Linked DNA regions of Homo sapiens: all the other regions are linked to region 2. Evidence: fine-mapped expression QTL. A gene starts in region 2. Each other region holds a variant in brackets. All regions are shown on one strand. Distances are from middle to middle.

Region 1 (4,244 bases), 25 kb before region 2:
TAGGTGTATTCCTAAGTATTTTATTTTTTGCAGCTGTTGTAAAAGGGATTGAGTTCTTTATTTGATTCTCAGCTTAGTTGTTGTTCATATATAGCAGTGCTACTGACTTGTGTACATTGATTTTGTAGCCTGAAACTTCACTGAATTCATTTATTGAATTTAGGAGCTTTTTGGATGAGTCTTTAGGGTTTTCTGGGTATATGATCATATCGTTGATAGGCAGACAGTTTAACTTCCTCTTTACTGATTTGGATGCTCTTTATTTTTTTCTCTTGTCCGATTGCTCTGGCTAGGACTTCCAGTACTATGTTGTAAAAAAGTGGTGAAAATGGGCATCCTTGTCTTGTTTCAGTTCTCAGGGGGAATGCTTTCAACTTTTCTCTGTTCAGTATAATGTTGGCTGTGGGTTTGTTATGGATGGCTTTTATTACCCCGAGGTATGTCCCTTCTATGTCAGCTTTGCTGAGGGTTTTAATCATAAATGGATGCTGGATTTTGTCAAATGCTTTTTCTGGGTCTATTGAGATGATCATATGATTTTTGTTTTTAATTCTGATTATGTGATGTATTACATTTATTTATTGACTTGCATACGTTAAACCATCCCTGCATCCCTGAAACCCACTTGACCATGGTGGATTATCTTTCTGATATGCTGTTGGATTTGGTTAGCTAGTATTTTGTTGAGGATTTTTGCATCTATGTTCATTAAGGACATTGATCTGTAGTTTTCTTTTTTTTTTGTTTGTCCTTTCCTGGTTTTGGTATTAGGGTGATACTGGTTTCATAGAATGATTTAGGGAGGATTCCTTCTTTCTCTATCTTTTGGAATCATTTCAGTAAGATTAGTACCAGTTCTTCTTTGAATGTCTGATAGAATTCAGCTGTGAATCCATCTGGCTCTGGACTTTTTTTGTTGGGATTTATTTCTGTTTCAATGTCGCTACTTTTAATTGATCTGTTCAGAGATTCTATTTCTTCCTGATTTAATCTAGAAGGGTTGTATATTTCTAGAAATTTATCCATCTCCTCAAGGTTTTCTAGTTTGTGCATGTAAAGGTGTTCATAGTAACCATGGACGTTCTTTTGTATTTCTGTATGATAAGTTGTAATATCTCCTGTTTTGTTTCTAATTGACCTTATTTGGATCTTCTCTCTTCTTGGTTAATCTCACTAATAATCTATTAATTTTGTTTATCTTTTCAAAGACCAGCTTTTTTGTTTCATTTATCTTTTGTATATTTTTGTTTAAATTTCATTTAGTTCTGCTCTGATATTTGTTATTTCTTTTCTTCTGCTAAGTTTGGGTTTGGTTTGTTCTTGTTTCTCTAGTTCCTTGAGGTGTGACCTTAGATTGTCTATTTGTGCTCTTTCAGACTTTTCGATGTAGACATTTAATGCTATGAACTTTCCTCTTAGCATTGCTTTTGCTATATCCCAGAGGTTTTAATAGTTTATGTCACTATTATTGTTCAGATCAAATAACTTTTTAAATTTCCATCTTGATTTTGTTGTTGACCTCAAGATCATTAAGAGCAGGTTATTTAATTTCCATGTATTTGTGTAGTTTCGAGGGTTCCTTTTGGAGTTAATTTCCAGTTTTATTCCACTGTGATCTGAGAGGATATTAGATATAATTTTGATTTTCTTAAATGTATTGAGACTTGTTTTGTCACCTATCATGGTCTATCTTGGACAGTGTTCCATGTGCTGAGGAAAAGAATGTATATTCTGCAGTTGCTGGGTAGAATGTTCTGTAAATATCTGCTATGTCCATTTGTTCTAGGGGATAGTTTAAGTCCATTGTTTCTTTGTTGACTTTCTGTCTTGATGACCTGTTTAGTGCTGTCTGTCAGTGGAGTATTGAATTCCCCTACTATTATTGTGTTGCCATCTCATTTCTTAAGTCTAGTAGTAATTGTTTTATGAATTTGGGAGCTCCAATGTTAAGTGCATATATATTTAGGATTGTGATATTTTCCTGTTGGACTGATCCTTTTATTATTATACAATGCCCACTTTCTCTCTTTTTTTGTTGTTTTAAAGTCTCTTTTGTCTGATGTAAGAATAGCTACTCATGCTTGCTTTTGGTTTCCAGTTGGATGGAATGTATTTTTCCACCCCTTTGCCTTAAGTTTATGAGTCTTTATGTGTTAGGTGGGTCTCTTGAAGACAGCAGATACTTGGTTGGTGGATTTTTATCCATTCTGCCATTCTGTATCTTTTAAGTGTAGCATTTAGGCCATTTACATTCAATATTAGTATTAAGATGTGAGGCACTTTTCTATTCATTATGCTAGTTGTTGCCTAAATACCTTTTTCCCCCATTGCGTGTGTGTTTGTGTGTGTGTGTGTGTGTGTGTGT[GTGTT/T]TTGTAGGCCCTGTGAGATTTATGTTTTAAGAAGGTTCTATTTTGGTGTATTTCAAGGTTTTGTTTCAAGATTTAGAACTCCTTTTAGCATTTGTTGTAGTGCTGGTTTGGCACTGGTGAATTCTCTCAGCATTTGTTTGTCTGAAAAAGATTTTTTCTCGTCTTCATTTATGAAGCTTAGTTTTTCTGGATACAAAATTCTTGGCTGACAATCATTTTGTTTCAGGGGGCTAAAATATAGGACCCTAATCCCTTCTGGCTTTTAAGGTTTCTGCTGAGAAATCACTGTTAATCTGATAGGTTTTCCTTTATAGGTTACCTGATCCTTTTGTCTCACTGCTCTTAAGATTCTTCTTTCATCTTGACTTTAGATAACCTGATGACTGTGTGCCTAGGTGATGATCTTTTTTGTGATGCATTTTCCAGGTGTTCTTTGAGTTTCTTTTATTTGGATATCTAGATCTCTAGCAACACCAGGGAAGTTTTTCTCAATTATTTCCTCAAATAAGTTTTCCAGACTTTTAGATTTCTCTTCTTTCTCAAGAACACCAATTATTCTTAGGTTTGGCCATTTATCATAATCTCGCATTTCTTGGAGGCTTGTTCATTTTTTAAAAAATATTTTTTCTTTGTCTCTGTCAGATTGAGTTAATTTGAAAGCCCTGTCTTTGAGCTCTTTATTTCTTTCTTCTACTTGTTCTATTGTTGAAACTTTCCGGTGCATTTTGTATTTCTCTAAGTGTCTTTCATTTCCAGAAATTGTGATTGTTTTTTCCTTATGACATTTATTTCTCTGGAGAATTTTTCATCCATATCTTGTATTGTTTTTTAGATTTCTTTAAGTTGGTTTTCAAGTTTCTCTGGTATATCCTTGAGTAGCTTAATAATCAACCTTCTGAATTCTTTTTCTGGCAATTCAGAGATTTCGTCTTGGTTTGGATCCATTGCTAGGGAGCTAGTGTGATCTTTTGGGAGTGTTATAGAACCCTGTTTTGTCATATTACCAGAATTACTTTTCTGGTTTCTTCTCATTTGGGTAGACTATTTTGGTGGAAAGATCTAGAACTCAAGGCCTGCTGTTCAGATTCTTTTGTGCCATGGGGTCATCCCTTGATGTGGGACACTCCCACTTTCCCGTGGGACGGAGCTTCCTGAGAGCTGGACTGCAGTGATTGTTATTGTTCTTCTGGGCCTATCCACTCAGCGGGTCCACCAGGCTCTAGGCTGATGCTGGAGAATGTCTGCAAGAGTCTCATGATGTGATTCATCTTCAGGTCTCCAAACCATGGATACCAGCACCTGCTCTGGTGGAGGAGGCAGGGAGTGAAATAGACTGTGAGAGTCCTTGGTTGTAGATATGCTTAGTGTGCTGGCTTTCTTGAATGCTGGTTATGCCAGCAGTGAAGTTGTCACGTGGACAGACTCAGGACCTCTGGTTAGCCAGGATGTTGCAGACAGTGGAATTAGCTGTTTTCTCCTTCCTGGGAACAGGGTTATTCTGTAATGAGTTGCTATAATGGCCTGAGTTGGTTGGCCTCTAGCCAGGAGGTGGTGGTTTCAAGAGAACACCAGCTGTGGTAGTAGAAGGGGGCTATAAGCTTGTCTTAAGTTGGCCAGGATAAGTATTCAGGCTTCTTGGATGATGGGTGAGGCCATAAAGCTCCCAAGAATTTATGTCTTTTGTAATCAGTTATCAGGGTGGGTAGAGAAATACCGTGGTGGCATTGGGCAGGGATAGGTGGGTCTAGGCTCAGACTCTCCTTGGGTAGGGCTTGCCACTGCCATTGTGCAGGATGAGGGGGTGGTTCTCAGGCCAATGGGGTTACGTTCCAGAAGGGATTATGGCTGCCTCTGCTGTGTCATCTAGTTCACCAG
Region 2 (4,244 bases):
TGCTGAATACCTGAATATGGGATGTGAGAGGAAGAGTAGAAATAGGGATGACACCAAGGTTTCTTGGTCTTAGGAGTTAAAATGGTAAAGTTGCCATTAACTGTGATGGGTATATTTGAGCTGTCTATTGAAATCCAAGTGGAGAAGTCAAGTAGGTAGTTGGACATTTAAGTCTGGAGTTCAGGGAAGAGGTTCAGGGTAGAAATATAAATTTGGAAATTGTCAAAATTTTGACGGTATTTAAAGCCATGAGACAGAATGAGCTCTTCAAGGGAAAGCATGCAGACAGAAAGAGGCACGATGACTATGCGTTGGAATACACCATGATTAAGAGGTAAGGGAGGTGAAGCAAAAGCAGAAAGGAGATTGAGGGGTAACAGCCAGTGAAGTAAGAAGACAATAAGAAGAGCACTGAATCCTGGGAAGCGCACACAGCATTTCAAGGAGGAGGAAGTAATGAGGTAAAATGCTGCTGATCATTAACTGAGAATCGACTACTGGATTTAGCAAAGTGGAAGTGGTGATCTTAACAAGAACAGTTTCTAATGAAATGCGGGTGGGAATGTGACTAAAGCAGGTTCAAGAGAAACTAGGAAAGGAAATAGACAGTACAAACATATCTTAGAAGGTCTGCTTTCTAATTAAGAAGAAAAAGAGCAGAAGCTAAAGGGGGAAGTGGCAGCAAGTGTATTTTGTTGGTGGTGTTGGTTTTTTTTTTTTTTTTGATGGAAGAAGTAACAGTATGCATGCTGGTGGGAATGATCCAGCAGAAGGCAGAAGAAGACAGTACAGTAAAGAAATAACAAATGCTAGTATTGGGTTTATGTTGTTGCAAACCTGGTGGAAGTTCTCTTCTGTTTTCGCAGTGGCTCATGCCTGTAACCCCAGCACTTTGGGAGGCCGAGGTGGGTGGATCATTTGAGGTCAGTTCAAGACCAGCCTGGTCAACATGGTGAAACCTGGTCTCTACTAAAAATACAAAAATTAGCCCGGCGTGGTGGTGCAGGCCTGTAATCCCAGCTACTTGGGAGGCTGAGGCAGGAGAATTGCTTGAACTTGGGAGGCAGAGGTTTTAGTGAGCTGAGAGTGCCCCACTGCACTCCAGCCTGGGTGACAGAGGGAAACTCTATCTCAAAAAGAAAGAAAGAAAGAAAAAAAAAACCGAAATAAGATTGCCAGAAATCATGAAAGGCCTATATGAGGTTAATCGTCACAAATTTGTTTTTCCCCAGCAACGTACTGCTGCATGGGTACAGGGACAAGACCAGGCAATATGTTGGATTTAACAAGGGTTGACATTTTGACAAAAGAGGGAAAGTACTTGAGAGAGGAACAGGAAATTGAGGTTGTATGCATCAGAACGTTATGTGGTTGGCAGATTATACAGGTATACACTCAGTTTGTCAATTCTCTTGTATATTACTACAGACCATAATTTACTAAAGAGATTAGAAAATCACAAGATCTGAAATGGGACAAAAATGTACTGTCTATTCTGTGACAGGTTCTTTGCTAATTAATACCCCCAAAGAACCTCCAACTTTGTAGACTCTTTAAACATAAGATTATTCTCTCTGCCGTAAAATAAAGAAGGGAAAGAGTAGCAGGAGACTCCATAGGGCCTTATAAGCCAGTTCAGGGATTCGGGCCTTAACTCTGAGATGGAAAATCATCAGAAAGTTCAAGGTATTCTACGAACACCTTGAAATGAGAATTTTTACTTCCTCACTTTTGGGTTTTGTACCACCAACGTCTAGCATAGTGCTTTGTACACCGTAGACATCCAATAACGACAATTGATGAAACCTTTAAAAAGCATCGTAGGTGAATTCAACATGGGTTGTGGAGGGTAAGGATGGTACCATCTCTCTGTCAAAGGGAGAAGAGCTAGAAGGAAGTAGCTTTGGCATGAACCAAAATGTCAACCTAATTGATCTTTAAATTTCTCTGCAAAATGCCCACATCTACCTCTGTCTGTCGGTCCGGTCCGTTCGCCGGCTTAGGTCATATCACCCAAATATGCCCCAGTATGAGAAAAGCGCTGTCGGGTAGCTGAGTTCTCTATCAGTACAGATATTCATGCAAAGATCCCGGGCGGGAATGTCAACTACCGAACTAAAGACTGTATCAGAGGACCCTGCTCCTCGCGGTCCCCAAATCCCGCCGCGCCATTTTCTTCTCAAGGGCACCCCACACCTGACAACTCACACAGATGGTTATCTTCAGCACACCGTGGTTATAGTCTCGGTACAACTCTTTGGCCTCCTGGTTGCATTCGATGCACCTGTACTGGCAGGAGGCCGAGGCAGCAGTAGGAGTCGCTGCCACCCCATCCACGTTCCCCTTCCCCTGCTGCAGGCCGCTCCGCCCGCCGTTGCCCATTTCCACTCAACTGCAGTCCAGAACTTCCGATTCTGTGGAGGGTAAGACGTCAGACGCCAGACCGGAAGACTTGCGCCGCGCGGGCTTATTGGGATTCGTAGTCCCGGCACCGGCAAGGCGGCCCCGGGCTGGCCGAGCTGGGACTACCATTCCCAGCACACAATGCTTCTCCCCTTGTCCCGCCCCCTTGCCACGGTCCACCTGCCCGCCGTAGGTTAGAGGCGGGGAGGCCTGAGAGCCGGGCAAGGGCTGTCGCGCATGCGCCTTGAGGGAAGATGGCACCTGCCGGCTGCTGCTGCTGCTGCTGCTTCTGGGGCGGCGCTGTGGCCGCCGCGGGCGCCGCCCGGCGTGTCCTGCTGCTGCTGCTGCTGGGGGTCCTGTCCGCCGGGCTGCGGCCAGGCGCCCTGGCCACCGAGCACTACTCGCCGCTCTCCCTGCTCAAGCAGGAGCTGCAGCACCGGCAGCAGCAGGAGGCCCCGGCGGGCGGCGGCGGCTGCAGCCCGCAGTCCGGGGACTGGGGGGACCAGTACTCTGCCGAGTGCGGCGGTGAGTGGGCGGCGGCGGGCGTCCGAGTCGGCCGGGGCGGCGGGGCAGCGGGGCTGGGGTCCCGGGCCGGGGTACGGGTCGCCCGGGCCTCACGCCTCCGGCTGCGGCGCGCGATCCGCGGGAGCCGGCTCGGCCAGGGGTCCTGGCGGGCAGCTTCCCGCCGCTGCCACCCACGCCGCCGCGCGCCCTCCTGCAGCCGCCTTTGGGCAGGGCGGCGAGTCGAGAAATGAGCTGACAGCATGCTCCTGGGGCCAGGGCGGCCTCTCTCCTGAGTCTGAAGCAACTGTTGGAAGGGTGGCGGAGGAGATGGCAGGTGGCCCGGGGCAGCCCTGTTCCCGCCGCCGGCCTCCCGAGGATGCCGAAGGGGCGAGGGAGGGGCGGGCGGACGAGCAACCAGCCCGGCGGCTTGCGGAGCCCGCCCCCGGAGGGAGACGCCTGGCACATCTTAGGCCTGGAAATCAGGCTTCCTGACCTCCCGGGTTAATGTCTCGTATACAACAGTTCCTAAAAATTGGATCCCTGGAATGGAAAAAAAGAGCAAGCCCATCTTATCTGCTCGTTGACATCTTGCTTCCAGTTGTTTAAGATCAACCTGCGATCTGTCAGGTGTCTCCCAGAGGGAAAAAAGGCCCCTGCAGGCCTTGAGCCTGTGTGTCAGTGCCGTGTGTGTATTGGAGCTACGCCAGCTCATTCATTAAGAATGGGCGCTATTGGCTTCAGTTTAATAAATCATAGCAGATGCCTCTGGGACAAAATACGTGTGTACATTTTTTTGTTTTGAAGTTCTGTCGTGGGTCTTTTTACCCATCAATCTCCTCCCTTTCTCTTTCCCCCTTCTCTATGTGAGTTCCCTTATGGCTTGCTTTGGGAAGGACCGGGGTCTACCGAACCCACTGGGAGATGGTTGCTTTTAAGACTTGGCAGTGGTTTTCTTCGGCATTGTGTACCTGGGAAAACAATACCTTTTTTTTTTAGTTGAGATGAGACGTCAAGATTAGCACAATCTGATTTCCTTTTAGTACAGTCTGACTTCCTTGAGGAAGTGTCACTCACTGAGAGGTTTGTGACTTTTTTATTTTGCGGTAGGCCTTAGCTGGTAACGGCGTAAGTAACACGGCCAGCCTTGCACGGTGGAGAAAGAATGGCATTTACTTACCTCTGTCACTTTCTGTATCTCTGAGCAAGTGAATTACCTGTCTTTGTAAAATGCCTCCTCTGTAAGTGGAAAACACTGTTCACCTAATTGTGGGGTTTTATTTTCCTCACGAGGGTGCTGTGAGGGAAATGAGAAGTAGCCGACATATATTGAGTGCTTG
Region 3 (4,244 bases), 930 kb before region 2:
GCATTCCCTTTGAAAACTGGCACAAGGCAGGGATGCCCTCTCTCACCACTCCTATTCAGCATAGTGTTGGAATTTCTGGCCAGGGCAATCAGGCAGGAGAAAGAAATATAGGGTATTCAACTAGGAAAAGAGGAAGTCAAATTGTCCCTTTTTACAGATCACATGATTTTATATTTAGAAAACCCCATCATCTCAGCCCAAAATCTGCTTAAGCTGATAAGCAACTTAACCAAAGTCTTAGGATACAAAATGAATGTGCAAAAATCACAAGCATTCCCATACACCAATAACAGACAAACAGAGAGCCAGATCATGAGTGAACTCCCATTCACAATTGCTACAAAGAGAATAAAATACCTAGGAATACAACTTACAAGGGATGTGAAGGACCTCTTCAAGGAGAACTACAAATCACTGCTCAACAAAATAAAAGAGGACACAAACAAATGGAAGAACATTCCATGCTCATGGATAGGAAGAATCAATATCGCGAAAATGGCCATACTGCCCAAGGTAATTTATAGATTCAATGCCATCCGCATCAAGCTACCAATGACTTTCTTCACAGAACTGGAAAAAACTACTTTAAAGTGCATATGGAACCAAAAAGGAGCCCACATTGCCAAGACAATCCTAAGCCAAAAGAACAAAGCTGGAGGCAACACACTACTTGACTTCAAATGATACTACAAGGCTACAGTAACAGCATGGTACTGATATCAAAACAGAGATATAGACCAATGGAACAGAACAGAGCCCTCAGAAATAATACCACACATCTACAACCATCTGATCTTTGACAAACCTGACAAAAACAAGAAATGGGGAAACGATTCCCTATTTAATAAATGGTGCTGGAAAAACTGGCTAGCCATATGTAGAAAGCTGAAACTGGATCCTTTCCTTACACCTTATACAAAAATTAATTCAAGATGAATTAAAGACTTAAATGTTAGACCTAAAACCATAAAAACCCTAGAAGAAAACCTAGGCAATACCATTCAGGACACAGGCATGGGCAAGGACTTCATGACTAAAACACCAAAAGCAACGGCAACAAAAGCCAAAGTTGACAAATGGGATCTAATTAAACTAAAGAGCTTCTACACAGCAAAAGAAACTACCATCAGAGTGAACAGGCAACGTACAGAATGGGAGAAAAGTTTAAAAATCTACCCATCTGACAAAAGGCTAATATCCAGAATCTACAAAGAACTTAAACAAATTTACAAGAAAAAGTCAAACAACCCCATCAAAAAGTGAGCAAAGGATATGAACAGACACTTCTCAAAAGAAGACATTTATGCAGCCAACAGACACATGAAAAAATGTTCATCATCACTGACCATCAGAGAAATGCAAATCAAAACCGCAATGAGATACCATCTCATACCAGTTAGAATGGCGATCATTAAAAAGTCAGGAAACAACAGGTACTGGAGAGGATGTGGAGAAATAGGAACACTTTTACACTGTTGGTGGGACTGTAAACTAGTTCAAGCATTGTGGAAGACAGTGTAGCGATTCCTCAAGGATCTAGAACTAGAAATACCATTTGACCCAGCCATCCCATTACTGGGTATATACCCAAAGGATTATAAATCATGCTACTATAAAGACACATGCACACGTATGTTTATTGTGGCACTATTCACAATAGCAGACTTGGAACCAACCCAAATATCCATCAATGATAGACTGGATTAAGCAAATGTGGCACATATACACTATGGAATACTATGCAGCCATAAAAAAGGATAAGTTCAGGAGCCCACATGTCCTTTGTAGGGAAATGGATGAAGCTGGAAACCAT[CATT/T]CTCAGCAAACTATCACAAGGACAGAAAACCAAACACTGCATGTTCTCACTCGTAGGTGGGAATTGAACAATGAGAACACTTGGACACAGGATGGGGAACATCACACACTGGGGCCTGTTGTGGGGTGGGGGGAGTGGGGAGGGATAGCATTAGGAGATATATCTAATGTAAATGATGAGTTAATGGGTGCAGCACACCAACATGGCACATGTATACATATGTAACAAACCTGCACGTTGTGCACATGTACCCTAGAACTTAAAGTATAATAAAAGAAAGAGAAAGAAAGAAAGAAAGAAAGAAAGAAAGAAAGAAAGAGGAAGGAAGGAAGGAAGGAAGGAGAGAAGGAAGGAGGGAGGGAAGGAAGGAAGGGAGGGAGGGAAGGAAGGAAGGGAGGGAGGAGGGAGGGAAAGAAAGAGAGAGAGAGAAGAAAAAGAAAGAGAGAGAGAAAGAAAGAAAGAAAAGAAAGAAAAGAAAGAGAAAGAAAGAAAGCAAAGAAAGAAAAAGAAAGATTCTTTAGGCTTAAAAACCACATCGAGACAAAATTTGTAATGTAGTTATTCACTCATGGGATTGACTGGGAGGATATAAAACATAAGCCCCTTAATTTTTTTTTTCCTTTCTTCTTGTGCTTCCTTTTTTCTCCCCTAATACGTACGCAGCTCCTGTTTTACCTTCAGGGAGCCAAATATAATTACTAAACATGGTCACAATGTCTGCCAAAAAGCACGGTGGAGCAATAAGGGCAAGGCACCCTCTAACCTGAACGGCTTTAGAGAATCTACTTAATCTGTTACAAAGCTTTAGGAAGGACAGTGCCATCACAATCACCCAGCTGTAAATATCTAGCACACTGGCCTGACTTTTCTTTTTAGTTTAGTTTAGTTTTGTTTTTGTCCTTGCTTTCACACACAGCTGCCTTATCACTGGGAAACACCTATATTCACCCTGGACTTAATCCATATCCCTCGTGCATAAAGCACCCCCTGGGATATTTTAAGATCCCCAAACTCACACATGTGAGTGAATTCAGTAATAGTAGGGATGCTATCCTCAAGAACAGGCAAAAATATCAGGCATTGTACTTACGTCTCTCTCACTGATTCATGGATCAAAATCCATGCCCTTGACCGGGCATGGTGACTCATGCCTGTAATCCCAGCACTTTGGGAGGTCAAGGCAGGCAGATCACCTGAGGTCAGGAGTTCAAGACTAGCCTGACCAACATGGAGAGACCCCATCTCTACTAAAAATACAAAATTAGCCCGGCGTGGTAACGCATGTCTGTGGTCCCAGCTGCTTGGGAGGCTGAGGCAGGAGAATCACTTGAACCTGGGAGGCAGAGGTTGCGGTGAGCTGAGATCGTGCCATTACACTCCAGCCTGGGCAACAGAGTGAGACTCCATCTCAAAAAAAAAAAAAAAAAAAAAGCCATGACCTCAGCGAATTCATTTTAAACAATCACAGAGCAACAGAGAAGTTACAAATATAGTACAAAGAACTTTCTATTTCCTGGACCATTTGAGAGTTGTTGACCCGCTGTTCCTCCACCCTTGAATATCTTAGTGGATATTTCCTAAAAACGAGGGTATTTTCCTAAATAACCACAATATAACCATCAAAATCAGGAAATCAATAATGATAGACTACTACCATCGAATCCTCAGGCTTCATTGAAATGTTGCCAAATGTCCTGATAATGCCTTTTATAACAACAAAAGGGTCCCCCATGCCCCTCAGAATCACACATTGCACTCAGTTCCCATGTCTCTTAGTCGCTTTGAGTTGGGAACAGTTCTTTAGTCATTCCTTTATTATTTTTTAAATTAAGACAGGATCTGGCTCTGTTGCTCAGGCTGGAATGCAGTGACACAATCATGGCTCACTGCAACTTCATCATCCCAGGCTCAAGCAATCCTCCCACCTCAGCCTCCCAAGCAGCAGGAACTACAGGTGTGCATCACCACGCCAGGCTAATTAAAAAAAAAAATTTGTGGAGACGGGGGTCTCACTATCTTGCCCAGGCTGGTTTCGAACTCTCAGGCTCAAGCAATCCTCCCACCATGGCCTCCCAAAGTGCTAGGATAATAGGCATGAGCCACTGCGTACAGCCTGGCCATTCCTTGACTGTCTTGACCTTGGCACTTCTGAAGACCATAGGCCAGTTATTTTGTGGAATGCACCTCCATCTGAGTTTCCCTGGTATTTACTCATGATCAAACTCAGGTTTGCATTTTTGTTGGGAAATCCCAGATCTGATGTCATGGTGCTCTTGTAGCTTACTGTGGTGGCTAAGGACTTCGACTTGTCCCATTGCTGATGATAACGTTGATAATTTGATTAAGGTGCTCTCTGTCAGGCTTCTCCACTGTAAAGTTATTCTTTTCATCTTTGTATTTAATAAGTATTCTGAGGGGATGTAATTGG

The links.
Region 1: its variant is fine-mapped to the expression of ARV1 in whole blood (INTERVAL, PIP above 0.99).
Region 3: its variant is fine-mapped to the expression of ARV1 in cerebral cortex (GTEx, PIP 0.96).

The regions. Positions count from the first base shown.
Region 1 is chr1:231,002,660-231,006,903 of GRCh38, reverse strand. No RefSeq gene overlaps it. Among named protein-coding and RNA genes, the nearest start is that of MIR1182, 15 kb to the left of the region's middle. The variant GTGTT/T (reference allele first, on the strand shown) is at 2,366.
Region 2 is chr1:230,977,244-230,981,487 of GRCh38, reverse strand. ARV1 (ARV1 fatty acid homeostasis modulator) reads right to left here and starts at 2,394. Exons shown (of 6, transcript NM_022786.3): 1 at 2,209-2,394. The coding sequence starts at 2,382. TTC13 (tetratricopeptide repeat domain 13) reads left to right here and starts at 2,627. Exons shown (of 23, transcript NM_024525.5): 1 at 2,627-2,928. The coding sequence starts at 2,658. RefSeq lists an enhancer at 2,163-2,462 and silencers at 2,743-3,002, 3,023-3,312.
Region 3 is chr1:231,905,023-231,909,266 of GRCh38, reverse strand. The region is part of intron 9 of DISC1 (DISC1 scaffold protein); the gene reads right to left. The region is part of intron 12 of TSNAX-DISC1 (TSNAX-DISC1 readthrough (NMD candidate)); the gene reads right to left. Among named protein-coding and RNA genes, the nearest start is that of DISC1-IT1, 19 kb to the left of the region's middle. The variant CATT/T (reference allele first, on the strand shown) is at 1,814.